4 linked regions of the Homo sapiens genome follow. The protein of the gene in region 1 interacts with the protein of each later gene in a biochemical or structural test. Each region holds a gene or a part of one and is shown in the gene's direction. Other genes may lie near its edges.

Region 1 (7,921 bases):
AAAGACATTTCCATGCTGTCTCTGTGTCTTCCAAAATAAAGCAGTGGGTCTTGGAAAAACCTATTAGAGTGTGATCTGGTTAGTGATTTTTCCACTGACTTAAATCCTGAAGGCAAGAAAATCAGACTCCCACAGGGGTGTTTAGCATTTCCTTCTTACACACCCTGGACCTTGGGGATTTTCTAGGCCAACTTCCTCACCGAAACCCAGGAGGAAACTGTACCGTGGAGGCCCCAGCTGATTTACTTGAGTCCCCCCGCCTGGCTGGTGCCTTAGCTGGGACCAGAATGTAGGCCTCTTGACTCTTGGTTCAGGCCACTTTAGACTCCACAAGGATAAAATGAGCAGTCAGCAGGAGGAGCCTAAGAGCTTGATATTCCCAGGCCCAACAAGGCCTGTGCCAAGCAGTAACTTTATGAGAAGGAAGTTATTCTGCCATCCCCACAGAGAGAGGACATGTCTTTATTAATTAAGCACATTTTTACAGTCAGCCAAAGAGTGAAGGAAAAATTAGTATTCTGTCATTTGGAAGTTTTGTAAAGGAACATCTTGTTCAGCTTATAAAACAATGCATTAATCTTCTGTCCTATATAGGAAAGTCATATGTTATTTTTAAAAAATAAGTTAGGGTGTGAGGAGGTGACAAGTTTCCAACTCCACTTGGTAACACCTTGTAGGAAATCTGGCCTGGTCCAGGAGCCCCTCTAGGCTGAATGGTATCGGCATTAAGCATGCAATTCATGTATGCTGTCACTAAGTGGTGGTAGGGATCACAGCCATGTGGTCCAAACATATAGTCACAGACCTTCCTTGTTCTTCTTTTTCCCCCTAAAACAATAGACAAAAGATTTCAGAGATCTTTTACCCTCCAAAGGGTTAAAAACCAGGGTTAAGAATGATAATTACATTTTTTTTTCAGAGATAGATAATATCATATACTTCAAAAATTAAAAATTGGCCAGGTGCGGTGGCTCATGCCTGTAATCCCAGAACTTTGGGAGGCCGAGGCAGGCAGATCACGAGGTCAGGAGATCGAGACCATCCTGGCTAACACAGTGAAACCCCGTCTCTACTAAAAAATACAAAAAATTAGCCGGGCATGGTGGCGGGCGTCTGTAGTCCCAGCTACTCTGGAGGCTGAGGCAGGAGAATGGCGTGAACCCAGGAGGCGGAGCTTGCAGTGAGCCAAGACAGAGCTACTGCACTCCAGCCTGGGTGACAGAGCGAGACTCTGTCTCAAAAAAAAAAAAAAAAAAGAAAAAGTAAAGGAAAAGGAAAATCACTGAAAAGTTTTCCTGTCACCCCCGCCCCAGACACTACTTTCTTTCCCAAGGGTGACAACATTTTTCAGTTTACTGTGATCCTTCCAGAAAGGCTTTATTATTGTATATGAGCATCTATAGGCTCACCCTTTTTTCCTTTTTGCTTTTTTTACTCACATGGTGGCATACTACACACATCTTCTGCCCTTTGTTCTTTCACTTAACAATTATCTTGGAGAACTTCCCATGTTAATTTATCATGCGTTTCTTCCTTCTTTTATGGCTGCATTCTATTTCAGTGTTGGGAAGTGCCCTCATGCATTGAACAGTGCCCTTTTCATGGGTATCAAGATTGTCTGCAGTCACTTACTACAGAAACATAGCACCATGAATGATTCTACTCATGCCTGTTTTGCACGTGTGATATACAAGTCAAAAAATTCCTAGAAGTGAATTCTTAGGTCAAAGAGCTTGTGCATTTGTAATTTTGATAGACATCATCTGATTTTCCTACACAGAAGTTGTACTGATTTACACTCCCATGGGCAGTGTGGGTATCTGCCAGTTTCCTCTTGCTTTCTGGAATATATTGTATTACTGAACTCCTGGGTCTCTGATCAGTGAACACAATGACATCTCAGCATAGTTTTAATTTGCATTTCTTTTTCTTTTTTTGAGATGGAGTCTCACTCTGTTGCCCAGGCTCAAGTGCAGTGGTGCGATCTCAGCTCACTGCAACCTTTGCCTCCCAGGTTCAAGCGATTCTCCTGCCTCAGCCTCCCAAGTAGCTGGGATTACCGGTGCTCACCACCATGCCCAACTAATTTTTGTATTTCTAGTAGAGACGGGGTTTCACCGTGTTGGCCAGGCTTGTCTCAAACTCCTGACCTCAAGTGATCCACCTGCCTCGGCCTCCCAAAGTGTTGGGATTACAGGTGTGAGCCACCATGCCTGGCTTAATTTGCATTTCTTATTATGAATAAGGGAGGACAGCTTTTCAGATGTTTAAAAGTCATTTGTATTTCCTTCCCTGTGAATTGTCTGCTTCTTACCCTTTACCTGTTTCTTTGTCTTTTCTGTTAAGAGACAGTCTCATACTGCTGCCCAGGCTTAGTGCATTGGGATGATCATAGTTCACTGCAGCCTGGAACTCCTGGGCTTAAGTGATCCTCCTGTCTCAGCCTCCTGAGTAGCTGGGATTACAGGTGTGAGCCAAGGTGGGGGCCTGGTGATGATCCGTGATGCCTTCTTTTGATTTTTTTTTTCTTATCAATTTCTAGATGCTATCTATGTGTTAGGGAAATTAGCTGCTTGTGATATGAATTGCAAATAATTTTTTCCCCTTTGTTGTAGACTTTGCTTATGGTAGTGATTGCCATGCCAGAGTTTCTTTGAAGTCAAACTTAGCTGTTTTTTTGTTACCACTTTTTGATTTTGTTGCATACTTAGAAAGGCCTTTCCCATTCCAAGATACTTTTTTTTTTTAAATTTAAAATTTTAAGTTCCCAGATACAAGTACAGAACGTGTAGGTTTGTTACATGGGTATATGTGTGCCATGGTGGTCTGCTGCACCTATCAACCTGTCATCTAGGTTTTAAGCCTCACATGCACTAACTGTTTGTCCTAATGATTCTTCAAAAATTCTCTGAATACTGGCAGTTGGCTCAAGCTCACCAGATTTAGGAGTCCTGAGTGAGGCTGGGGGCAGGCCTGTACCTTTATTTTTAAATTTATTTAATTTATTTCATTTTTTAAAATGATAGGGTCTTGTTCTGTCACCAAGGCTGGAGTGCAGTGGCACGATCACAACTCACTGCAGTCTTGAACTCCTGGGCTCAAGCGAGCCTCCTGCTTCAGCTTCCCAAAGTATTGGGATTATAGGTGGGAGCCACTGTTCTTGGCCCTAGGCCTATACCTTTCATCTTGTGGACTGAGGACTTCAGCCACTATCACTCCCGGGTGCTGCGATGGGGTTTAATTTCCAGTGACTGGCCCAGAGCCTGCTCATGGGAAGATCTCAAGGGAGGCTGTTGAAGGAACAGCATGCAACTTACCGGCCCACACACGTTCACACAGATGGGGGTGGGGGTTTGAGGAGGTGGGGGGTGTTGTGTGGATCAGCTTCAGGCACAGGTGTCTGGTTTCCTATGGGATGTGACCACATAACAGTAAGGCAAGAAGATGACTGCATTTATCTTCTCAGAATCACTTCTTCTTAATTGTTGCTTCCCACTATTGGCATTGGTGAAAGGCTGGGCCACAGGAGGCTGGATGAACTTTGTGTTAGCCAGGTAAGCAGAATGTCTATGCAGGTGGAAAGTAGACAGTGAAGGTGTGCTCATCTGAGTACGGAGGGGCATAGGTCAGGAACCTCGTTGGCCTGCCCTGGCCTTTGCCCCTTTGTTTGGCCCTGTGGCTACAAAGCTCCCCTACCAGGAGCAGCCCCCACTGGCGGCTCTGGCCCTGGAAACCTGTGAATGTTTGGTGGGGGCAGGGTGTGGAGAGGCCAAGTCCACAGTGTATCTAACCCTAGTCCATCTCAGGATTCGGCTTCCCCCAGCCCCTTCTCCTTAGGGTCTCAGCTCGGGCCCTCAGGGCAGCAGGAAGATGCGCTGTCCTCACTCCCAAGTCCCCCTGCCCTTCTGTGCCTTCTGACCTGGGCAGAACTTCCCATGCCACAGCTTCGCCTAATCCAGCCACAGGAGAAAAGAAAACGAGGGCAAATCACCACGATTTGGGGGGAGGGAGGCCCCTGAGCCCCCGCTCTGCCCAGACAAGGCATCCTGTGCATCTCCCATGGCTCATCACATCTGCCTGGGACTCAGTGAAAGGGCCAGAGGGCCAAAGGTGACACCGGAGTCTCCAGCACGACCTTCGAGGGCCTCCAGGGCATTTCTCGCGCTGTAGGGGCGGAAGACTGGCTCCCCTGGGGATGCATGTGAGTGTCTAGGAGTGTACGCTCCCCAGGGCCCCGCGGAGGTCAGGGTTCTCTCCATTTAGGACAGCAAGGAGAGAAAGCCCTGGAGTGAGGCCCTGGGGCTGGGGGCTAAAGCAGCACAGAGTATCAGAAACGGGGTGCTGGGATGGTTACCGGGGACCGCCAGGGAAGACTTGGGAGTCCAGCATGCGCCTAGGGGAGCTGCGGTGGGGAGGCAGCAGGGGGCCTCCTCTGCCGGATGGGGCCTTCGGAGGCCGCGATCCCCGAGAGTTCTTCGCTCGAGGGTTCTTCGCTCTAGGGTCCCCCATTACAGCTGCGCGGGGCCGAGCAAGCAGGGCGCGGCGGCCGGGGCAAGGTGCGGAGCCTCGCGTTCACCGGCTCTACCTGCGGAGCCTCGCGTTCACTGGCTCTACCTGCGGGACCAGACCCCTGCAGCTCCCCAGCCAGCACGGCCGGGGCACGCCCGGGAATCTGTGTGCTCCCCAGGGCCCGGGGCGTTCGGGGCGCCGCGCCTTCCAGCGCCTGGGTCCCAGCCCCGATCCCGGAGACCGGCCCGGGGGGACCCGGGGTCCCGAGTGCACCCTCCTGCCCTGCAGACTGTCCCAGCGCCGGGGCCAGGGGGCGCAGGACCTCGCGCACGCCCGGCACGGACGCATCTTTGTCTTCCCTCTCTTCACGGCGCGCGATCTAGCCGGGAATCGTTTTCCGGCCCCAGTGTGCCCGGCGCGGGTGAGGCGGAAGCGGCCGGGGCGGGGGCGCAGGCCCGGCAGCCGCAGGCCGGTGCGGGATGCGCCCCGCAGCCGCGCCGCGTGCGCCCGGCAGAGGCGGCCCTGCGTGCCGTACGCTGCGTCCGGGGCGCGCCCGCCGCTATTCGGGAAGCTATTCAGCTTCCCGGGCTCATTAGCAGTCGCGGTGTGCGGCTCGGCGCGGGCTCACAAAGAGCTCGGCCTCGCGGACTGAGCCGGCGGCAGCGGGGCGGGGACGGCGGCGTACCCGGGCAGCCCAGCGCCCTGGCCAGGTAAGCTGGGGAACCTGGGCTGCCTGACTTGCCGGCGGCGGCAGCCTGGGGCCGCCCGGGGCGCCGCGAGGACCCGGACGCGTGGGGGGCGGCGCGGAGGTTGCGGCCCGAGCGCTCCAGAGCGCTGCCCTCCCGACTCAGCGTGGCTGCGGGGCGGCCGCCGCTGGGATATGGGGGTACAGCCCGGCGGCCCCACTCCTCTCTGACCGGCCGCTTCCCCCTCCCACGACGGGTGGGCGGGCGGGGCGGGGACCAGGCGGCGGCTCTCGCATCCCGCGCGGGGGGCACCGCGGCAAGGGGCCACCCGGCGCGGACAAGAGGCGCTGTGTGGCGGGGCTGTCCGCTCGACTCCTGCCGGGCTGGCCGGGCTGCTTGGCACCGGCATCAAGTCCCCGTGCCGGGCGGCAACTACTGAGTTTGGGGTCGCCTCTGGGTTCGCTGCCCCCAGAGAACCCAAGCCCAGATCTTCGCCCCCTTCCCTTTCCCTTTATAATAAGGCCCAGAGGGGAAAACTTATCAATTCAAAACCCCACACCCCGTTGCTCCTGGGCTGCAGGTGCCCGGTTGGGGGCACGGCGCGGACCTGCCCCTCGGCCTGGCCCCTTCCCCATGGCAGGCACTGCCTGGCAAGGCTGCTGGCGGGAGATCTGGCTGCAGATGGTGAAGGAGAACATCGAGGCCCCCGGTCCCCAAGCAGGGCGCCATGGGCCGGGCAGCGGGCCTCGGTGTGCCCAGGCGGGGAGGGGGCGAACTTCCTTTCTCCGACGCCTGCCGAGGACCGCCGTGGAGAGCAGAGCCTTAGAGGGGCCTGCTAGTCTTAACTTCGTATTTACTGGCAGAAGGAAGGCTTAATTTTTCAGATCTATTCAGATACGACCTGGCAGGCACCAGACATAAATCTGTGGTTGAGTGCAGTCAGCTCCTAAATGGGCATGTGGAGGGTGAGGCACCCCGAACTCGGCATCTTGCGTCTGGCACTGTTTTTGGGCTAAACTGCCTCTGGCCTCTTCAACCTCCTGTGCCTCTTTCTGTTTTTGTTTTTGTTTTATTTTTCTGTTTTCCTTCCTCTTTGAGAAAGGACAGTGATTTTAGAAATAATGACCCGAGAGCTTTGCAGGTTGAAGTGGGACGAGTTTTCCTAAGGTGCAGGTTGGCAGGTGCCAGGAGCCTGCAGGTGGCTTTTTCTCAGGCCTCTGGGTCAGGGTCCCTCCAATGAGGTGAGGCAGGGGTTTCTCCTGTGTGTCGCCACTACGCAGGGGACAGGATCTGGGTTTCCCAGTCCAGGGCGTCCAGGATGCCCTGCCCTCTGTGCTGATTCCTGGGTGACCGTGGGGGCTGCTTCCCCCTGCAGCCTGGGCTGGAGAGGGTCTCCTGAGCTTAGGATCTGCCAGGCAGGAGGGCCAGGGTGACACGGACCTGGAACGCTGGGGCTCCAGGCAATGTCCAGGGCGTGAGTGGGTAAAGCTGGAGCTTGTGGCTGTGTGCCGGCAGCCTTCCCTCGGTGGGCTCTAGCAGCACTGTCAGGGGGGCCCTTGGAGTGGGCTCCATGGCTGGGCTGGGACTGGGTGATGGCATTAGCGATGGGGCACCGAGTCTTCCCTCTTATTTATTAGGAAGTGTGGTCTGTGCCCCTCCCTACTGCCGGTCTCCTGGGCTCCTGGGATGGGAGGAGCTGCAGGCTGAGTCCCACGGGGTGTGAGTGTGTGTGAGCAGGAGAGTTGGGTGGGCGCTGGAAGGAGGTGAAACTGGTGACCGTCAGCTCCTCATTCTCTTCCACCTTGCATGTTTTCTCTGACACCCTAGACTCAAGTTGTGGCCTGCTAGTTAACTTGTTTACAAAACCTTTTTAAGTAGTTCTAACCTCTTTTTTTCAACAAAATGTTAGTTTTACAGGCATAATTGGTGGGGATGGATTGTGAAATGGAGGTGCATAAATACCTAGTTTGCCAACTGAGCTAAGAAATACTGGATAAAAATAAGAGATAATTGTAAAAGACACTGATCACACCCCTGGAAGCTGAGAGGGGTGATAAGACACCTTGATTTTTCCTAGACAAAACTGAGGAAGTCAGAGGAAAAACAGTTGATGGTGAGGTTGGCATCAGGCTGGGCTTTGTTTGGATTGGGCGGCGGTGGCTGTGGTGAGGGCTGTTGGAGTGGGGAGAGTGGGGGTTGAGCCTGGCTTCAGAGACCCCCTCGAGGCCTCAGCTCCTCTCCGGCGCTCCTGGCTGTCCTCTGCCACGCATACCTGCCCCGGTGACTCAACAGGTGTGGGCCTCAGGTGACACCATGGTCCGAAGTCGTGGAGAAACCTTTACTGTCCAGGGGAGGAGAGGACTGGCGGTCGGTGGGGATCGAGACCCAGCACACATCACTGGGTGGCTCGAATGTCTTCGGCAGAGATCACATGCCCTGCCTTGCAGCCTGGTCCTTAGAGAATGGGGAGAGTGGAGAGAGCTCTGGGCCTGGGTGGCGGGCGGTCCTGGCTGTATCACTCACAGGCTGCGTGCCCTCCCCATGCAGTCTCAGTTCCTCACCCTTGCCAGGTGGCTGTGAGGACTGGGAACGTGGAGGCACAGGTAGGATGTAAGGTAGCCACTGACCACCAGGCAGGCCTCCCCGATGTAGGTCAAGTTTGAGATGGTTGCTCACCAGGAGGCAGCCTGTGTGCCCGGTGGGGGCTGGGGGTGAAGTTTGAGAGG
Region 2 (7,403 bases), on another chromosome or scaffold:
TACTTCAGGCACTTACTGAACCTAGTGTATGTGGAAGGAAGAGGGGATGCACTTAGAATGGGCATAGGATATAAGAGAATAATGATAAAGAATATTTATAATCAGAACTTCTCACACTCAGGACGAGGAAGGAGAATCTCTAACAGAGTCACAGCATGATTATTTCAGCTTTTTCCTGTTTCCTTCCTCTGTACTTTGGGTCCCTCTTTCCTTTCTAGCGTTCCCTCTTCCTTCATCAGACACACTGTGTGGCAAACTTAAGCCCCAAACCACAACCTTGACAAATTCCAAATGGATTTTGTCAGCAAGGCCAACACACCCCTTCGCCACTCCCTATCCCTGCTCCTAGCACATGCACTGGGGTCAGCGACAGGGTTGGAGTATGCAACCCACAGAGCTGGTGGCTACAATTTCAGCTTTTACTAGGCTCCAATGGCAGCCAGAGGGAGGGAGAAAGGCTGATGAACTGTAAGACGGGCCTCTTGTCCCTCTTCAGCTCCAGATGAGTTCTACTCCTGCTGGCCTTTACCAAGTGGCTGGGAAGTTAGGGAGGGGCAGTGGCCAGCTAATTGCCAGCTGGGCAGCACTCCTCCTATCTCTGCTCCTGTTTGCTCCATGGGCAGCGCACTCTGATGCTGCAACAGACGTTTTCTTCTTCAGACTCCAGACAGGTGAAGGACAGAAGCGCTGGGAGATTCTCTAGTCCCATTAATCAGTCCTGACTGACATACCATGGTACCTGCTGCTTACTACATTAGACTGTCACCATTTCCATCTTTCTATTGCACTGGGGATAAAACCTTGAGAAGATCTGAAGCACTGGGCAGGAATATCAACAGGTTCCACCTCCTTGTCTGAGTTCCACAGGCATGTGCACGTGGTAAGGGCACTAGGGAGGTTTTATAAATCATAGTTTTGGTGGACAGCATGGTGGGATAACCTGGTGGAGTGTTACTAGAAATTTCTAGAGAAATAAATGAAAGAGTAATCACATGGAAATATCAAAAAACCCACTCTAGGAGTAATAATACTGGAGGAAGATCCTTTTGTAGTTCATAAGCATAATGACTGGGTGCTTACACACATGTGAGATGTGCCACCCTCAAACCTTGTTACATTGGCACACTATCCATTTGACATGAACAACAACAACAAAATACTGGAGGTGTCTTTTGTCCTTAAAAACACAGAGCTGGGCTAGGCACGGTGGCTCATGCCTGTAATCCCAACACTTTGGGACGCCTAGATGGGAGGACTGCTTGAGCTCAAGAGTTTGGCCTGGGCAACATGGCAAAACCCTGTCTCTACAAATAGCATAAAAATTAGCTGGGTGACTGGGCATGGTGGCTCACGCCTGTAATCCCAGCACTTTGGGAGGCTGAGGCAGGTGGATCACCTGAGGTCAGGAGTTCAAGACCAGCCTGACCAACACAGTGAAACCCTGTCTCTACTAAAAATATAAAAATTAGCCGGGCGTGGTGGCACATGCCTATAATCCCAGCTACTTGGGAGGCTAAGACAGGAGAGTCACCCGAACACAGGAGGCAGAGGTTGCAGTGAGCGGAGATTGTGCCATTGCACTCCAGCCTGGGCAACAAGAGCGAAACTGTCTCAAAAAAAAAAAAAAAAATTAGCCAGGCATGGTGGCGTGCACCTGTAGTCCCAGCTACTTGGGAGGCTGAGGTGGTAAGGATCACTTGAGCCCAGGAGGTTGAGGCTGCAGTGAGCCGATTGCGCCACTACACTCCAGCCTCAGCAACACAGCAAGACCCAGTTTCTTTTTTTTTCTTTCTTCTTTTTTTTTTTTTTGAGACGGAGTCTTGCTCTATCGCCCCGGCTGGAGTGCAGTGGCGCGATCTCGGCTCACTGCAAGCTCCAACTCCCGGGTTCACGCCATTCTCCTGACTCAGCCTCAGGAGTAGTTGGGACTATAGGCGCCTGCCACCACGCCTGCCTAATTTTTTGTATTTTTAGTAGAGACGGGGTTTCACCGTGTTAGCCAGGATGTTCTCGATCTCCTGACCTCGTGACTCGTGATCCGCCTGCCTCGGCCTCCCAAAGTGCTAGGATTACAGGCTTGAGCCACCGCTCCCGGCCAAGATCCAGTTTCAAAAACAGAAAAAAAAAAAAAAGCAAGAAACAAACAAACAAAACCACCAACAAAAACACACCCGACAGAACTACCCAGCACAGTGGCACATGTCTATAATCCCAGCTATTCATGAGGCTGAGACAGGAGGATCACTTGAACCCAGGAATTCAAGACTGAAGTGTGCTATGATCGCTCCTGTGAATAGCCACTGCACTCCAGCCTGGGCAACATAGTGAGACCCCGTATCTTAAAAAAACACAGAGATGTGGCTCACGCCTGTAATCCCAGCACTTTGGGAGGCTGAGGCAGGCAGATCACGAGGTCAGGAGATTGAGATCATCCTGGCTAACACAGTGAAACCCTGTCTCTACTAAAAAAACAAAAAATTGGCCGGGCATGGTGGCACACACCTGTAGTCCCAGCTACTCGCGAGGCTGAGGCAGGAGAATCGCTTGAACCTGGGAGGCGGAGGTTGCAGTGAGCTGAGATTGCACCACTGCACTCCAGCCTGGGTGACAGAGCGAGACTCCATCTCAAAAACAAACAAACAAACAAACAAACAAACACACACACAAAAACAAAAACAACCCACAGAGATTAGCAGGGCAGCAGCCCTTAATAGCAGTGCCCAGGACAGATATAATTCCTTGTTATAAACAGGTTCCTTGTCATCCATCTCATCCCTTACCATCTTAAATTAAGGTCCCCTTAGCTTGACATTCTAGGGTCATGTTATCAGGTTAACATAAGAGAGAGAACAGACTGGGTTAAGGGACTGTAAGTGCATACACCAGGGATTGATGAGGACAAGGAGATCGACATATATGGCACCTACCAGCTTTTTTTTTTTTTTTCTTTGAGACAAAGTCTTACTCTGTCGCCCAGGCTGGAGTGCAGTGGTACGATCTTGGCTCACTGCAACTTCCGCCTCCCAGGTTCAAGCGATTCTCTGGCCTCAGTTCAAGTAGCTGGGATTACAGGTATGTGCCACCATGCCCGGCTAATTTTTGTATTTTCTGGTAGAGACAGGGTTTCACCATATTGGCCAGGATGGTCTCAAACTCCTGACCTTAAGTGATCTGCCCACTTCAGCCTGCCAAAGTGCTGGGATTACAAGTGTGAACACAGGGCCTGGCCCCAGCTTAGTTCTTCTTGGAAGCAAGGAAACAAACAAACAAAATCAACCAAGGCAATAAATTCATAAGAGCAACAATTTGGGCTCAAGCCTTAGGGAAGAGCCATGTGTTCATTCCCTTATACTGCTGTAAATGAGGAGAGAGGGCACTTAGAGAACCTTCTATTGGCCGGGCGCGGTGGCTCACGCCTGTAATCCCAGCTACTCAGGAGGCTGAGGCAGGAGAATCGCTTGAACCCGGGAGGCAGAGGTTGCAGTGAGCCAAGATGGTGCCATTGCACTCCAGCCTGGGCGACAGAGTGAGACTCTTGTCTCAAAAAAAAAAAAAAAAAAAGGAACCTTCTGTTCTTAGCATTACTAGTGCCCTTCTATCACAGCTATTTTTGTTTCAAGGCAGTTCTGCATGTCTAGACCAGGTGCAAAACGGAGTGTGAGGGAAGTAGGAGTGGGTAGGAAGCAAGAAATATGGGTGCAAAGTCCTTCACCTTTCCTTGGGATACTAAAATCCCTACTCATCTAGGCACACTTCCTCAAACCACACTTCTGAATATTAGGTTTCCACTCTCCGTCTTTCAAGTTCCAACTTAACTGGCTCAGAGTCCAGCTGTTTTCCTTTAGCCTCTTAAGTTCATCACTCTCCTTCCTCTTCCTTATGGGAAAGGATCTCTTGATTCAGACCCCACAGTAATCTAGTCTCAGGAATAGTGAGCAACAACAATGGTGCGGTGAGGGCTTTCAGGGGATGGCAGCTAGCCCAGATTAAGAAATAAAGATGAAGTCTGGCTGGGTAAGGCATGCCACAGCAACGACTGTTCACCCATATCCCGATGCTGGCTTTGCCCAAGGAGCCCCTGGGCCCCGCAGCCCAGCCCGTCTCCTACGCAGCCAACTTGCCGCCTCAGTCCTTAAATTCCAGGCACAACCCTGGAGCTTGGGATTGTCACCTCAGTCCTCACTGTCTCATCCCCATTCACGGCTCCCGCCTCCGCCGCCCACAGCCCCCACACCTGCCCCCGCCCTGACTCCAGCTCCAGCGCCCGGCCGCCGGTGCTGCAGCCGCTGCCATGGTGATGGGTCTCGCGAGAACTGCCGCTAGCTACCGCGCAGCTATCGCGCGATCGGGGAGGTGGGAAGTATCCCGGGCTGGGGGTGGGGGTACGCCGCACAGCTCCAGTCGCCGTCGCGGCTTCCGGTGCTAGGTGGAGGGAAGGAAGGAGGGAGCCGGGGAGTGGGCCAGGGCAGCAGCCGGGCTGAAGTCGGCTTGGGGAGCCAGAGGGAGCGGAGCGGAACCTGCGGGGCAGAGGCGGCGGCCGCAGCGGCGCAGCTGATAGCAGGAACAGGTGAGAGGCTGGGAAGGGAAGGCGGGTCCCGGTAGAGAAGAGGCTCGGTCAGGGTGAGGGCTGAGGAGATAGAGCGCCTCCCGGGCCCCGCCCGGCACTGCTTGGCGTGGGGCGGTGGGATTCTTCCCACCCGAGAGCTCAGAGAGGGTGCGTCGGGCCAGCTTCACGCCTGCCCCCGCATTTGAAGGACGCAGAGCTGGGGTGGGGGTGGGGGGCGCACACGGATTTGTCCTCCGCCTCGCTCAAGGGGGCGACCTGGGCTGCAGTTAGGTTGTCGCCTGCAGGAGGTGTGCTGTTGAGGGAGAGGAAAACCGTCCGAGGAGAGGTGATGAGGGGGCGGTGATGGCTGTTTGTATCTTTTCTGTTAAAGGGCTAGGGAATGCTGCTTTCTTCTACTCCCTCTCCCTCCCCCACCTTAGCAATAGGAGACGGGAGAGAAGCCTTGCTGTGGTTACACCCCCTCCCCCATCATAGGGCAGGGGTGCGTAGGGGGGTTGGGGGTTAGCCAACAGGGCAGGCTGCTGGGGCACCACATGGGCGCTATTGTGGTAGAGGTTGCGCTTTCGAGTCTAGGGAACCGCAGGTTGGGAAGAGGGCAGCAAGTGGGGAGAGGGTGGAGAGGAGGCAGGAGAAGGAGGAGGGGGATCTGATCTTCCTGGGAGAAGAGAGGTGGGGCCTTCCTCCCCAGGCGGAGCGGGGGCGGTCTCACAGGAGGAGGGAGCATCTTGTCACTGGCCCTCAGTTTGTGTCTTCCAATCCGCTTTCTTTCTTTAGGAAGTACCAGGATTCCCGGAACAGAAAATGGAGCCATTGCTTACGCGAATCGTTTGAGGGAAGGGGCGGGAGTTGGGGAGGTGGAGTTCCCTGTTAAAACGGGCCACTTGATTAGCAAAGTGGTAGCTGTTATTTTGGGGGAATTCCCGTCTTGATTGCATTAAGGCGGGTCTCCATCTTTCCAGGCCAGGAGGAATGTGGTGGTGGAGGTGGAGGATTGTGGTATGTGGTCAGGAGTGAGAAGAAATAGTAAGGCCGTCCCGGTGAGGGAGAAATGTAACCTAAAACCTGTCTCTGCTGTTGTTGGATTGGGTCACCCCTGGTCTATGGCATGAAAGTTTTATTGGGAGGAGATCTGCTGCAAGAGTCTGATTGCTTGGGTCAGTGCAACAGGACAGAATCTAGTCGCTGCATACCTCCTTCCCTGTCCTCAATCAGGTAGGTAGTAACAGTCTTTGCTGCTATTTTGTCTTGGGCTTGTTGTTGGGGTAGGTGTTTCCACTTGCCGTGACTTGGGACATGGGACAGTGTTATGGGACAGTGGATTATCATAGCCCATTGGACTTGAGTTTGAAAAACATGTCTGTAAAAGTTCATTCTAAGAAAGAAACTAATCCATTAAGGTTCAGCTTTTCACCGAATGAATGATTGACCTTGGATTCAGCCAGGAAAGGCTCCCATGTATCACATATTCACATGCGTCCTGTTTCCCAGCATAGAATTATTACCTTGCATAGTTAGAATTTTTATAGTTGTCTATCTTGCTTTTCCAAAGAGACTAGACGCTTTTCGACTGCAGGAACTGGATTTCGTCTCCTCTTCCACAATGCCCATGCAAACAGTAGGTACCCATGATGAATTTAGAATGTAAATAGATAGAACTCAACAAGCTTTCTAACTGTAGTTTAAGGAAAGGGCAAGAGATGGCTTGGCTGTCAGCAGAAGTGCCTGGAAATAGCTTAGCAAGGGTACAAAGACCCTTAGCCTTTGTAATTAAGAAGTTTTTGTGTCTCTGCCTTCCTAAGAGGCACAGAATAGGCATAGATAATGGAAACTTAAGACCCAAAAAGAAAAATATTACTAGAACACAGAGTCATTATCTGCAGTCCCAGATTTCCTGCTTCCCCATTGTGGGCAAAGGGGTCTCTCCATCAGACCTAAGTCTTTCAAAGTGTTATATATGAATTGGGATCCTGGAGAGTTTGGAGGAGGGACCAATATATGTATATGTGTGGTGTCAGGTACAGAATTGGTACCAGTGAATGGTAGCTGCTATTATTATACTGAATGCAAGTATAAAGGAGAGCAGACTGGAAAGAGTGGAAGTGAGTGAAATACTAAGTGCACAAAGAGTCATATTGTAGTGTGTGTTCACCCTACTCTTTTACACTAGAGTCATAATAAGAGGAAGTGGACTCAGGATAGAGGGTGGGATTTATTGGTTAGAAGGAGGAACTTCTTTAAAACCAGGTTGGTTAAAGTTGAGTATGTAACTGAAGGAAATTGTAGAATCTGCTTCCCTATATACCTTTATTTTTATCCACCCAGGCTGGAGGGCAGTGGTGTGATCATAACTCACTGCAGCCTCGAGCTGGCCTCAAGCCATCCTGTACTTCAGCTTCTCAAGTAGCTGGGACCACATGCGTGTGCCACCATGCCCAGCGAATTTTTTTTTTTACTTTTTGTAGAGATCTCACTGTGTTGCTAGGGCTGGTCTCAAACTCCTGGCTCCAATATATCCTCCCACCTTGGCCTCCCAAAGTGCTGAGATTACAGGCATGAACCACCATGCCTGAACTCTCCTCACCATTTTTGTTGAGGTAAATTTAGAGGCAGAATGGTATAGTAATTAAGAGTGGATCTTGGAATCAGACAAAATTAGATTCAAATCCTGCTTCTGCTAATTACCAGTTGCATGTTTCTTGTAAAATTGCTTGTCTTCTCTCTTTATTTTCTTCATCTGTAAAGAAGGTAATGACATATGGTTTTCAAGAGAATTATTATTTTTTTGGTTGTCAGTAGAATTAAATGAGATAAATGTAAAGCACCTGGTATTGTACAA
Region 3 (7,021 bases), on another chromosome or scaffold:
AAGCCACTTAATACATAAAATTCACTGTTACTTTTCCATTTGCACATAGGCTTAGTGAGACCTCCCCTCACCATCCTATTTGAAATAATTTCTCTTCCTGAACCCCTAAATCCTGTTTCCCTGCAACACTTTTTCTTTTTGCATAGCACTTAGCCCATTCTAACATGCCTTGTTGTTTACTTATTGAATTGTTTATCGTCTGTTTCCCCTCAGTAGAACATATGCCCCAAGATGGAAGGGTATCTGCTTTGCATATGTTTCCCGTCACCAGCACACCAGAGGCATGCCAGTATTGTGTGATTGAATGAATGAATGGGTGGATGGATAACAGCATTTCAGTTTAGACAGCGTAGTAGCTTTGCATCCTAATTTTCACTTTACAGATAAATGCTATATACTGAAAAAAATTACATAGTGTAAAGCAAACTTAAGTTTTTTTTTTGTTTGTTTTTGTTTTTGTGACAGAGTCTCATTCTGTCACCCAGGCTGGAGTGCAATGGCGCGATCTTGTCTCACTGCAACCTCCGCCTCCCGGGTTCAAGAGATTCTTCTGCCTCAGCCTCACCAGTAGCTGGGACTACAGGCATATGCCATCACACTGGGCTCATTTTTGTATTTTTAGTAGAGACAGGGTTTCACCATGTTGGCCAGGCTGGTCTGAACTTCTGACCTCAAGTGATCCGCCTGCCTCTGCCTCCCACAGTGCTGAGATTACAGGTGTGAGCCACTGCACCCGGCCCAAACTTAAATTCTGCAGTGTCGATATGGGAATTCATTAGTGGGTAAATTTTCAAGGATCATGGGGCCAGCCTCGGTGGCTCACCCCTGTAATTCCAGCACTTTGGGAGAACTAGGCAGGCAGATTGTTTGAGCCCAGGAGTTTGAGACTAGCCTGGGCAACATGGTGAAACCTTGTCACTACAAAAATACCAAAAAAAAAAAAAAAGTTCAAGGATCAATTCTGTTGGTTGCAGTATTGGGGATATTAGATCATGAAACTCTGTCTCAGCCTTTGAAGGCTGTAGCTCTGTGGCTACCCCTGTTAGTCCCTTTAAAAATACTATAATTTTCAGCTTTTTTGGGAAGATGGTTTCTTAATTTGTTACCTCGTTTTTTCAGAAGTAACGATGTGGAAAAAAGTCGTTCGAATATAGACCTCAGTATTACCCATAGTCTAACATTTTTAATACTGAAAGTAAATAACATTTATTTCTCAAAGGAGACCTATAACTGCTGAAGAAATAATAAAATACGAACAATTTTGAATATATTCCAATTTTAGAGCATTCACTCGGTTAACTGGAACCTTCAGTTAGCTGGAATTCGTCCTTTGGCTGGATATTTCTTTTGGGAGAAAAAGCATGAAACCAAGCAGTTTTATAGGAATTATTTTTCAAAAGGAAGGTTTAGGAGGTCATAACATACATTATCTGTGCCAGTATTTGATATTCAAGCCAAAAACGCAAATAATATTTCAGTTTTAGTTATGAAGAATATGACCAAAAAATGAAATTTTTGTGGGATATAAAATATTACATTGAAAATAGAAAATGCTGTAATTTCGTAACACTAGCTGCAGGACTTAGTGAAGCTTATTAAACCAAGTCTAAATGTTTAAAATGAGGAAGCTGAGATAGGTTAAAATTTTAGAACAAAGGAAAAAAAGTACTGAGTTATTTTTATTATTGCTTTCTGAGACAGGAAAGTATGTTTTTTAATTTTTTTGGGTAGTTTTCATTTATAAGAGTTGAAACAAAATAGAGATCTGATTATCCTAAAAAACCGCCAAGAGTCTATTTCTTATGTATTCTGGTTGAGGGCTTAGATCATTAAAACTTGTTTTTTTAGTGGGTCTTAATTTGGTGTGAAGACTTGCTTGAAGGGGCCGGGTGCGGTGGCTCACACCTGTAATCCCAGCATTTTGGGAGGCCAATGTGGGTGGATCACGAGGTCAGGAGATCAAGACCATCCTGGCTAACACGGTGAAACCCCATCTGTCTCTACTAAAAAAAAATACAAAAAATTAGCCAGGCGTGGTGGCAGGTGCCTGTAGTCCCAGCTATTCGGGAGGCTGAGGCAGGAGAATGGCGTGAACCCGGGAGGTGGAGCTTGCAGTGAGCCGAGATCGCGCCACTGCACTCCAGCCTGGGCGACAGAGTGAGACTCCGTCTCAAAAAAAAAAAAAAAAAAAAAAAAAAAGAGTTGCTTGAAGAAATATGTCTTTATAAGTGAAATTTAAAATGTTGATTTGCTACAAAATACGGATTTTAGTAGTGTTTCAGGACTACAGATTCAAGATTGGTGGAAATTATTTATGCAATGTCATGTTCGTGCATTAAAAAACAACCAAGGCCTGGCGCGGTGGCTCATGCCTGTAATCCCAGCACTTTGGGAGGCCAAGGTGGGTGGATCATGAGGTCAAGAGATGGAGACCATCCTGGCCAACATGATGAAACCCTGTCTCTACTAAAAATACAAAAATTAGCTGGGCATGGTGGCATGCATCTGTAGTCCCAGCTACTTGGGAGGCTGAGGCAAGAGAATTGCTTGAACTCGGGAGGCGGAGGTTGTAGTGAGCCGAGATCACACCGCCGCACTCCAGCCTGGCGACAGAGTGAGACTCAGTCTCAGGAAAAAACAAAAACAAAAACAAAAAAAAACCCAAACGGCCAGGCATGGTAGCTGACACCTGTAATCCCAGTGCTTTGGGAGGCCAAGATGGGTGAACTGCTTGAGTCCAGGAGTTCGAGACCAGCCTGTGCAACATGGTGAAACCCCATCTCTACTAAAAATACAAAACAATTAGCTGGGCATGGTGGCATATGCCTGTAGTCCCAGCTACTCAGGAGGCTGAGGCTGGAGAACTGATTGAGCCTGGCAGGTTGAGGCTGCAGTGAGCCAAGGTCACACCACTTGCATTCCAGCCTGAGCGACAGAGCAAGACTCTGTCTCTAAAAAAAAAAAAAAAAAAAAGCCAAACTAACAGACCCTCAAAAGTGACATTTTGAGGCTATGCAAAGGCCATATATAGGAACCCTTAAATGGCGACAGCCTCCCCACTGTGTCAGCCTGACATACAATACCCGTCTTTTCCCTAAGAGCTGCCACCACCCGGGAACTAGAATGCTGCTTTCAGTTGTCCCTGATTTGATAGGTTCTTTCTCTCCTATGTTTTAGGTATATTTTTGCTCATTTTTTGATTTAGCTTTAGGATATTATTATTAGATTAAAAATTTTCACAAGATCTGTTACTAAAGTTTTTATTTTTAAAGATTCTTGGCAGAGATTCACGTACTTCAAAGTAGCAGAGTTTAAAGCAGCTTAAATGCCTATAAAACATCTGAAAGTTGGCTGGGTGCAGTGGCTCACAACTGTAATCCCAGCACTTTGGGAGGCCGAGGCAGGCGGATCACCTTAGGTCAGGAGTTCGGGACCAGCCTGACCAACATGGAGAAACCCCATCTCTACTAAAAAATATAAAATTAGCCGGGTGTGGTGGCGCATGCCTGTAATCCCAGCTACTCGGGAGGCTGAGGCAGGAGAATTGCTTGAACCCAGGAGGTGGAGGTTGCGGTGAGCCGAGATGGTGCCATTGCACTCCAGCCTGGGCAACAAGAGCAAAACTCCGTCTCAAAAAAAGAAAAAAATCTGAAAGCTTCCTTCCCATTCCGGAACCCCAATAAGAAGTATGTGATAGCATATCAAAAGAAGAGTCATGTTTTTTCTTTTTTACTTCTTTGGTCAGACATGAATCATTATCTTAAAAAGAATTAATAGAAGTGGCGTCTCACTGTGTTGCTCAGGCTGGTCTCGAACTCCTGGACTCAATCAGTCCTCCCACCTCATCCTCTCAAAGAGCCGAGATTATAGGTATGAGCTACCGCACCTGGCCGAAGAATCATCTTTCAGCCATCTGTTTCGTTCTGTCTGATTCTCCCATGACAAGAACTTCTGTTGAGTCTGCTACTTTTCAAGCCTACCTTGATCTGTACTTTCTCTGAGTCATTGTGTAGGACAAAGGAGGACCACCGGCTGGGTGCGGTGGCTCACGTCTGTAATCCTAGCACTTCGGGAGGCCGAGGTGGGCGGATCATCTGAGGTTGGGAGAAAGAGACCAGCCTGACCAATGTGGAGAAACCCCATCTCTACTAAAAAATACAAAATTAGCTGGGCGTGGTGGCACATGCCTGTAATCCCAGCTACTTGGGAGGCTGAGGCAGGAGAATTGCTTGAACCCAGGGGGCGGAGGTTGCAGTGAGTCGAGATCACACCATTGCACTCCAGCCTGGGCAACAAGAGCAAAACTCCATCTCAAAAAAAAAGACCACTTTTGTCATGCCACTGCACTCCAGCCTGGGTGACAGAGCAAGACTTTGTCTCAAACAAACAAACAAAAAAACCCACCTTTTTCTGCATCCACTCCTTTTTTTTTTTTTTTTTAAAGCAGCTTTATTGAGGTATAGTTCACATACCATAAAATTCAACCTTTTAAGGCATACAATTCAGTGATTTTAGTATATTTACAAAGTTGCACAACCATCACCACTATCTAATTTCAGAACACTTTCATCACTCCCAAAAGAAATCCCATATCTGTTAGCAATCATTCTCCATCTCCCTCCTCCTCTCCTCCTCCCTTGGCAACCCCTAGTCTATTTTCTGTCTATGGATTTGCTTATTTTGGACATTTCACATCAATGGAATCATACGTGGCCTTTTGTGACTAGCTTCTTTTGCTTAATATGATGTCTTCAAGGTTCATCCATGTTGTAGCATGTATCAGGACTTCGTTTCTTTTCATAGGTAAATAATATATCCTTGTAGGGATATAACACATTCTGTTTATCCATTTATTCACTGATGGACATTTGGGTTATTTCCACTTTGTAGCTAATTTTGGAAAATATTACTATGAACATTTTTGTACAGGAATTTGTGTGGACATATGTTTTCATTTCTCTTGGGTGTATACCCAAGTGGAATTGTTGGGTCTTAGGGTAACTCTTAGATTTAACTTTTTAAATTAAAAAAATTTTTTTTTGAGGTAGAGTCTCACTCTGTCACCCAGGCTGGAGTGCAGTGATGTTATCTTGGCTCACTGCAGCCTCCGCCTCCTGGGTTCAAGAGATTCTCCTGCCTCAGCCTCCCGAGTAGCTGGGATTACAGGTGCCTGCCACCATGCCCGGCTGATTTTTGTATTTTTAGTAGAGACGGGGTTTCACCATGTTGGCCAGGCTGGTCTCCAACTCCTGACCTCAAGTGATCCAGCTGCTTTGGCCTTCCAAAGTGCCGGGATTACAGGCGTGAGCACTATGCCCGGCCTGTGTTTTTAACATTTTGAGGAACTACCAGTTGGTTGTACAAAGTGGCTGCACCATCCTGTATCCACTTGACCTCCATAGTCACTCACAGGAGCATTTTTCGAATCAAATACACATTTCACAGTTTTCTAGTTTGTTAGAATTTTAAGTTGAATTTTTCCTAGTCTAGGTGCAAACCGGCATTTCATCCAACCAATTCCTTCCTTTGCCATTGTCTCTCATATAATTTCTACTCTGGACTTTAGACTTTGAGTTGAAAGGAACTTTGAAAGTTCTTTCCTCTATACTTTAAATAGCCTTCCCTGTAAAACAGACATTTCCTCATATGTTCTTGTGTGTTGATCATTCAGCCTCTGTTTGAACTCTGCTGCTGTGGGGCTCTTGGTAGCTCACAGAGCAACCCTTTTCTTAAAAACATTGAGCCTTTGGTCAGCTTTCCTGAGGACTAAATTTTATCACGCCTTTGTATTTTTGCAGGCATCCAAGCCTACAGTCTGTTGTTTTTACCACCTCACACATTAAGAGAGACTGAGAGCACTGAGGCCTAGGCCTTGATTTCTGTAGATTTCTTAGGAAATCTGAGCCTAGCACAGGGCTACACATGCAGTGTTTGGGGGACAGCCACCCAGACACATGCAGAGTCAATATCCTGGTTCCAGGAGCAGGGCTTAACTTAATGAAAGGGACTGGAAAAAACACGAGAATTTTCAAACTACAACTAGTTTAGAAAAGTGACATTTTTCTTTTTTTTTTTTTGAGACAGGATCTTGCTCTGTTGCCCAGGCTGGAGTGCAGTGGCACAATCACAGCTCACTGCAGCCTCAACCTCCCTTGGCTTAAACTATCCTTCCACCTCAGCCTCCTGAGTAGGTGTGCACACCGCCATGCCTGGCTAATTTTAAAATTTTTGTAGAGACGGGATCTTCCTATGTTGCCCAGGCTGGTCTCGAACTTTTGGGCTCAAGCATTCTGCCCTTTTTGGCCCTCCAAAGTGCTGCGATTATAGGCGTGAGCCACCATGTCCAGCTGACATTTCTTCATTCATTACATTTTTGTTATGCTAGTTGGCTAAAAATGTGCTTTGTTAAAAAGTAAATTATTTTTTCTAGTCCTTTGATTTTATTTAACTATTCCTCAATTACCCAATCTTCAAACATATAAAATGCTTAGAAATATGTCTTTAGATTCAAAGTGAATTTTAAAACTCAGTAAAAATGAATATCTTCTTTGTTTACATACTTAAAGTATAGCAAAGAAATTTTTATTCAAGCTGGAGTGCAGTGGCACGATCTCAGCTCACTGCAATCTCCGTCCTCCCAAGGTTCAAGCGATCTGCCCATTTCAGCCCCCTGAATAGCTGGAACTACAGACACACACCACCATGCCTGGCTTTTTTTTTTTTTTTTTTGGTAGAGATGGGGTTTTACCATATTGCCCAGATTGGTCTCAAACTCCTGGACTCAAGCAATCTCCCTGCCTCAGCCTCCCAAAGTGCTAGGATTACAAGCATGAGCCACCATGCTCAGCCTAACATTTTTCTTTCTTTTTTTTTTTGAGACAGTGTCTCGCTCTGTCACCCAGGCTGGTGTGCAATGGCGTGATCTTGGCTCACTGCAAGCTCCTTCTCCCAGGTTCATGCCATTCTCCTGCCTCAGCCTCCTGAGTAGCTGGAACTACAGGTGCCTGCCACTGCGCCCGGC
Region 4 (7,021 bases), on another chromosome or scaffold:
TTTGGGAGGCTGAGGTGGGTGGATCATGAGGTCAGGAGTTGGAGACCAGCCTGGTCAAAATAGTGAAACCCTGTCTCTACTAAAACTACAAAAAATTAGCTGGGTATGGTGGCCAGCACCTGTAATCCCAGCTGCTCAGGAGGCTGAGGCAGGCGAATCGCTTGAACCTGGAAGGCGGAGGTTGCAGTGAGCCAAGATTGTGCCACTGCACTCCAGCCCGGGCGACAGTGTAAGACTCTGTCTCAAAAAAAAAACAAAAACAGAAACAAAAAAACAGCTTTATTGAGATGTAACTAACACATTATACTGCTTGTTCATAACAATCCACTTACAGTGTGCAATTAAGTGGCTTTTAGTCTATTTACAGGTACATGCAAGCATCGCCACAGTCAATTTTAGAACACATTTTCAGCACCTCAAAAAAAAAGAAAAACCCGCACCGTTTAACTATCATCCCCTACATCCCTGTCCCACCCCTAGCCAACTATGAATCTGTTTTTAATCTCTGTAAACCTCTCTGTTCTGGACACTTTTTGTAAATTGAATGATACAATATGTGGTCTTTTGTGAGTAGCTTCTTTCGTGTGATGTTTTCAGGTTTGTCCACGCAGTGGCTTGTGTCAGAGCCTTGTTCCTTGTTACGGCTGAATATGTGTTCTGTGCTGTGCCACATTTTCCTTATTCTTTCATTTGCTGATGAACATTGGGTTGTTTCTACCTTGTGGCTGTTATAAATGATGCTGTTGTATACATTTATGTCCACATTTTTGTGTGGGTCTGTTTTTGCTTCTCATGGGTGTGTACCTAAAAGTGGAATTAATGAGTGATTGGGTAACTCTGTGTTTAACTGTTTGAGGAAATGCCAGACTGTTTCCAAAGTGGCTAAAGCATTGTATATTCCCACCAGCAATGCATGAGGGTTCTGAATTCCCCATATCCTTGCCAACACTTGTGGTTTTCCATCTTTTTAGTTTTGGTATTTTTTAAACTACAGCCATCATCATGGGCATGAAGTGGTGTCTCGTGGTGGTTTTTATTTGCCTTTCCCTGATGATGAGTGGTGTTGAGCAGCGTTTCATGTGCTTAATAGCCATTTGTATATCTTCTTTGGAGGAGTGTCTATTCAGATCCTTTACCCATTTTTTATTTGGGTTTTTTTTTTTTTTTTTTTTGAGACGGAGTCTCGCTCTGTTGCCCAGGCTGGAGTGCAGTGGCGCGATCTCGGCTCACTGCAGGCTCCACCTCCCGGGTTCACGCCATTCTCCTGCCTCAGCCTCCCGAGTAGCTGGGACTATAGGCGCCCGCCACCACGCCCGGCTAATTATTTTTGTATTTTTAGTAGAGACGGGGGTTCACCATGTTAGCCAGGATGGTCTCCATCTCCTGACCTCGTGATCCGCCCGCCTCGGCCTCCCAAAGTGCTGGGATTACAGGCGTGAGCCACCGCGCCCGGCCTTTTTTATTTATTAGAATAGTTATTTACATATTCTAAATACAACTCCCTTATCAGACAGAGGATTAGGAAATAAGTATTTTTCCCATTCTGTGGATTTGTCTCTTTACGTTCTCGGCGTCCTCTGAGCACAGAAGTGTCCGATTTGATGCGGCCTGATTTATCTGTATTTTTTATTCTGTTGCTCATGATTTTGGTGTCACATCTAAGGCTCCATTCCCAGATTCGAGGTCACGAAGTTTTGCCCCCGTTTTCCTCTAAGTGTTTTATAGTTTTAGCTCCTTACACTTAGGTCTGGAATCCATCATGAGTTAATTTTTGTCTATGGAGTAAAGTAGGGTCACATTCATTCTTCTGCATGTGGACATCCAGTTTTCCCAGCACAGTCTGTTGGAGAGGCCATTCTTTCCCCACGGAATGGTTTCAACACTCTTGATAGGTGGGTTTATTTGGATCTTTTGTCTTTGCCCTCTAACCTCCCATGTTCTCATTCCTAGGGGTCAGTATTTGGATTATGAGAAGGAGGAAGTGGAAGCTCAGCCCAGGCAGTGGAAGAAATACGACTTTCACTACGACAATGTGCTCTGGGCTCTGCTGACGCTGTTCACAGTGTCCACGGGAGAAGGCTGGCCCATGTGAGTGCTCATCCTGCTCTCCGTAGCTGGGGCAGGCAGCCCCTGAGCTCGGCCTCCCTTCCTCCCTCTATCCCTGGGCTCAGGCATGGAAGCAGACCCACCCTTGTGGTGCAGGTCTTGAGTTCTTAGGGCTGTCTCCTTTGGGGGTTCCCCTGACACTTGCTCTCCTCTTTGCCCAGGGTGCTGAAACACTCCGTGGATGCCACCTATGAGGAGCAGGGTCCAAGCCCTGGGTACCGCATGGAGCTGTCCATCTTCTACGTGGTCTACTTTGTGGTCTTTCCCTTCTTCTTCGTCAACATCTTTGTGGCTTTGATCATCATCACCTTCCAGGAGCAGGGGGACAAGGTGATGTCTGAATGCAGCCTGGAGAAGAACGAGGTAGGTGGACGCTCTGTGGAGTCTTGCAGTGGACAGCGTGGGCAGCGCCATCAGGCTTCCCTCCTGCACACAAATCACTCACAGCTGGGTCAGCTTTGGCTGCCACCGTCTGCCAACACAGGGGCAGGTCCTCCTTTCTCCTGCAGAGGGACCGGATTTGGCTGGTTGAGGCCTGCTTGGAGAAGGTCTGGGCTGCTTCAATTTGTCTTCTGTTGTCAGGGCTCCCTGTGAGGCCTGGCGAGACAGGGCTGGGTGCAGTAGATGCCGTCGGGTAGGTTTTCTGCTTCTGAGTCTCTGTGCTCCTTTCTCCCCTTACAGAGGGCTTGCATTGACTTCGCCATCAGCGCCAAACCCCTGACACGGTACATGCCCCAAAACCGGCAGTCGTTCCAGTATAAGACGTGGACATTTGTGGTCTCCCCGCCCTTTGAATACTTCATCATGGCCATGATAGCCCTCAACACTGTGGTGCTGATGATGAAGGTGTGTGGGGCTCAGCGCAGAGGGGCAGCTGGCGCTGCTAGGGATTGGGATCTAACCCTGAGGCTGAGTGGAGAGTCAGCCTTCTTCCTCCCTGCATGAGCCAAAGCAGTAGTGGCCTTGCATCCTGGCCAGCATGGGATGCCTGTGGAATCCTGTTTCCCTTTGTTGTCTGTGGGCTGGGACAGTGGGGAGGTTCTGGGAGGACTCGGGGAGAGCAGGAAGGGGTGTCCCAGGCCTAGGCAGGCATCGAGTTCTGTCTGCCCGCTTTGCTTGGTCATAGTGGTCCCAGATGGGGTGTCTTGGGGCTGCCAAACCCATGGCCAACAGTGCCTATTCCCCGGGCAGTTCTATGATGCACCCTATGAGTACGAGCTGATGCTGAAATGCCTGAACATCGTGTTCACATCCATGTTCTCCATGGAATGCGTGCTGAAGATCATCGCCTTTGGGGTGCTGGTACGTGCTTTGGTCCCTGCTTTGCCTTTTGACAACCTATATTCTGGTTCCCCATCTGTAGGGCGACCTTTGGGGGCTCACAATTTGGAGCTGGGAATTCTCCGAGTACCCAGAGTATATGTAATGCTACAGGGGCCCTGGGGAAGGGGCTGTTCTGAGACTCTTGGCTACATAAGCTCTGCCCCCAGCCTAGGTCCTGGGAGGGAGGCAGGGCTGGGTTCTTCCTCTTTGGACACATGGCTCTTAGTCCTGCCTCTGCCCAGGCCCAGAGGTATCTGTGTCCCTGGCTTTGACATCTGCTTACCTCTGGCCTTGTGCTGTGCCCCCTGGGGTGGCCTGTCTGCCCTGTGCTCAGGGTCTATCACCCTCACCGCTTTCTTAATCAGGGCCACCACCTATATATACCTCTTTGCCAACAGAGCCCTCATCAGCCGCTGGCACTAACTGCTCTTCTTTTTCTCTAGAACTATTTCAGAGATGCCTGGAATGTCTTTGACTTTGTCACTGTGTTGGGAAGTATTACTGATATTTTAGTAACAGAGATTGCGGTAAGTAGCATTTCTGTCCCTCCTTCAGGGTCCCCAGGTGGTTTCCTTCTAGAGCCTGCTCCCCTCAGTGCATCTCCAGGCCCTGTGTTAGCCTCTTCCTGGGTTCCGCAGAACCCCCTGGACATGTGGAGGCTTCGCTCCAGGGGTGGAGTTTAGGGATTGGGTGTTACCTCAGCAGATGTTCTTTCTTGAATAAGAAAGTGGTTCTCAAAGATCTTTTGGGCTGCTGGCCTGAGAGTTACCTGGAGCTCCATGGTAACAACTAATCAAGAAGATGTGAATCTTAAATTTGTATCTGTATAATATGTATCTAACAAGGTGGTATCAAAAATATATAAACTGAAACCAGTAAGGATTTATATTTCAAAATATTGCCCCCCACCGTCTCTCTATCTCTCTCTATATATATCTGGAAATACTCATTCTTACCAAACATATGTGGATTATGTCTTAAAATTGACCAGTGCTGGGATATAAACTTGTCTCAACAAATTTCAAAGCATCTGAATCATAAAGCAACATTCTTTGAGTACAACACATTACACTGGAAATCAATGGCAGAAAATCTCATTTGTTTGGTCTTAGGTTGAATTCTCGAGAAGCAGACGCAGACACGAGCACTCATGTGAAATTTATTTCTTAAGTTATGTTCCCAGTAGAAACCAGCAGAGGGGCATGGGGAAATGGGTGGGAAGAGAAGGACCAGAAATCCTGCGTCCCAAGCCAAGTCCTGGTGGGTCAGTGTGGGTCATCTCCCAAGGGACTTCTGGCAGCAGCGTAGGTCGCACCTCAGAGCTATCCCTGCTGGAAAGGGAGCTGCAACGTGTTTGCCTCTGCACCCTCCGCACGGCATTAGGCTGAGGGCTGCACCTGGGGTGTCAATTCTCAGATGCTTCCAGCTCCCTGAGTGTGCCACGAGTGCTGCACCCAAGCTGTTAGGGCTGAAGGGACGTCTGACACCATCAGAGGAGAACCTGCTGGAGCACCAGGCTCCTTCCTGTTCTGCCCACACTTCACATTGGGTTCACTGTGCTCATTCTTTAGGATGGTGCTGGTCATGGTCTCTGGGAGACAGAGCGGAGCTCCGTCTGCTGTGCTGGTCCAAGCAGAGCTGGTGTTCATCATCCCGTTCCCCCCACCCTTTCTAGAGCCCCTGAGCTGATGTTCATCATCCCGTCCCCACCACCCTTTCTAGAGCCCCTGTCCTGTGGCCAGCCTTCTGCTGCACTGGTTGCTGGCCTGGTGGGATGACCCAGACCCTCAGCCCTGCGCATCCCAAGTCCCTACTTGTTGCCGTTCTTTTTCCAACCCTGGCTGCCGTGGTAATCCAGTCGCAGTGAAGACTGCGCACAGGAGCGTGTTCATAGGAGCATGGAGAAAGGCCCAGTGAAGCCCCTGATTCCCAGAATTATGCAGTGGCAGCTCTGCCCTTCACAGTAATGAGGGTCAGATGATCTGGCTGGCATGGAAACTCTTTGTGATGCCTGCTGGCCTTCTGGCACGAGCAGCCCCAAGTGACCAGGTGGCCACCATGGCTTTGGTGTTGTGTGGTAGAAGCCTTCTCCACCTGTTTGAACCAGGGCCTCTAGATTTGCCAGACCTAAAATTGGGGAAGATGAGCGCAGAGTTCATACTGGGTTTCTGGAGCGATGGTGAGACAGGCCCCTTCTTCTTTCACCATTTCCTCCATCCATACATTTTACTGATTGGGCACCCAGTACCATCGATTGGCCGTTGGTTCATCTTGAAATATGGCACCCCAACCCCATGAAGTGTATCACCAAGCCGGCATTTTATCTCTGCCTTTAAGGTCAGGGCAGCGTCTCCTAAGTGGTGTTGCGTTAGATGATCCAGTGGACCCCGCGGTCACCTGGCTCACATGCATCCCCTGCGTGTGCTCCAAGCTGATGTTATATGGAATCCTGTGTTGGTAAATCTCTGAGATGTTAGTGCCGGCACGGTACTGCACAAGGAAAGGCAAACCCACACCTGGGATGTGGGTGGATCCCAGATGAGACAAATCACTGCCCTTTCCAGGAGAGGGTGTTCTGATATAATCAGCTTACCACTAGGTGGCTGGTTGACAGCCCCAAGGCATGGCACCAGATGGAAGCCCAGTGTTGCTGTCTGTTCATTCCCGGTAGATAATCGTCAGTGGTCATGACTGGATCATGCTGCTGAGAGGCTCTTGGCCACGATGGTCACCCTATCCAGAGGTCTGCTGTGTGGACACTGGGGCTGGTGAGGACAGAGGCTAGCCAATATCTGTTGGTCGACTTATCCCAGTGCTTGGTTTTTAGTGCCCCATGGTGAGCATTGGTTTGCAAAACAAAGGCCTGTACCCCATGCCTGTTCCCAAGGCCCATCTGTCTGCCTCTCACCTAGACCTTGTTCCCTCCAGGATCCTGACCAGCCGTTTGTGCCTGCCTAGGACCCTGTTATCCTCAGCACAGGCAACTTGTTTTCCCCCCCACACAGAGCTGACCAGATACCCTGCCCAGGGCTCTGCTCCACCTCTGTCTTTCAGGCTGTTCCTATGTGAGGCTGTAGTGAGGCCTGCACCAGTATACCAAGCAACCCATCCACAAATCAGGTCTGCGTTTCCCCCTAAGTTGTAGTGAATCCCCATGAAGTGATGGCGGGAGTGAGGTGAGGACGTCATTGGTCAACAGAGGTGCGTGTCATGGGGGATTGGGCCACATGTTGTGTGCTGTGTCCTCTAGACATGCTTGGGTTCGGTCGTAGAGGTACCCCTTCCATTGTTCACTGGGCCTGTGGTGGGTCTGACAGCACATCACTATGGGGAGATGCTTTGGTGTCATAGACAGCGATGTCTCTTGGTGACACACACAGCTGCCACCAGGGCCAGGAAGTAGGTTGGCCCCTCTCATTATGCTTCCGTTCTGTAGATGGCATGGCCTGCTCCCAAATGCTGGGTGTCTGCACTGACTTCTCTGTGGAGGCTTTCCCAGGACTTTACCCAGTATCCTTACCTACCACATACACATCAAGGACCCTGGGGGTTGCTGGGTTTTGTGGCCCAAGTGGCAGGGCCACTGCTATCA

What was found.
Region 2: the proteins of APBA2 (region 1) and ARF3 form a complex in vitro, tested with the Homo sapiens proteins (one study listed by BioGRID).
Region 3: the proteins of APBA2 (region 1) and CLSTN1 interact in a biophysical measurement, tested with the Homo sapiens proteins (one study listed by IntAct).
Region 4: the proteins of APBA2 (region 1) and CACNA1B interact in a biophysical measurement, tested with the Homo sapiens proteins (one study listed by IntAct).

The regions. Positions count from the first base shown.
Region 1 is NC_000015.10:28,881,060-28,888,980, forward strand, and holds the start of APBA2 (amyloid-beta A4 precursor protein-binding family A member 2), read left to right. Parts: upstream 1-4,914; 5' UTR 4,915-5,219; intron 5,220-7,921. UniProt on the Homo sapiens protein: Putative function in synaptic vesicle exocytosis by binding to STXBP1, an essential component of the synaptic vesicle exocytotic machinery. May modulate processing of the amyloid-beta precursor protein (APP) and hence formation of APP-beta.
Region 2 is NC_000012.12:48,954,474-48,961,876, reverse strand, and holds the start of ARF3 (ADP-ribosylation factor 3), read left to right. Parts: upstream 1-4,389; 5' UTR 4,390-4,567; exon of another isoform or gene 4,568-5,779; intron 5,780-6,116; exon of another isoform or gene 6,117-6,182; intron 6,183-7,403.
Region 3 is NC_000001.11:9,813,956-9,820,976, reverse strand, and holds part of CLSTN1 (calsyntenin-1 isoform 1 precursor), read left to right. Parts: intron 1-7,021. UniProt on the Homo sapiens protein: Postsynaptic adhesion molecule that binds to presynaptic neurexins to mediate both excitatory and inhibitory synapse formation.
Region 4 is NC_000009.12:138,055,782-138,062,802, forward strand, and holds part of CACNA1B (voltage-dependent N-type calcium channel subunit alpha-1B), read left to right. Parts: intron 1-1,950; coding exon 1,951-2,088; intron 2,089-2,267; coding exon 2,268-2,469; intron 2,470-2,787; coding exon 2,788-2,952; intron 2,953-3,297; coding exon 3,298-3,408; intron 3,409-3,872; coding exon 3,873-3,956; intron 3,957-7,021. UniProt on the Homo sapiens protein: Voltage-sensitive calcium channels (VSCC) mediate the entry of calcium ions into excitable cells and are also involved in a variety of calcium-dependent processes, including muscle contraction, hormone or neurotransmitter release, gene expression, cell motility, cell division and cell death.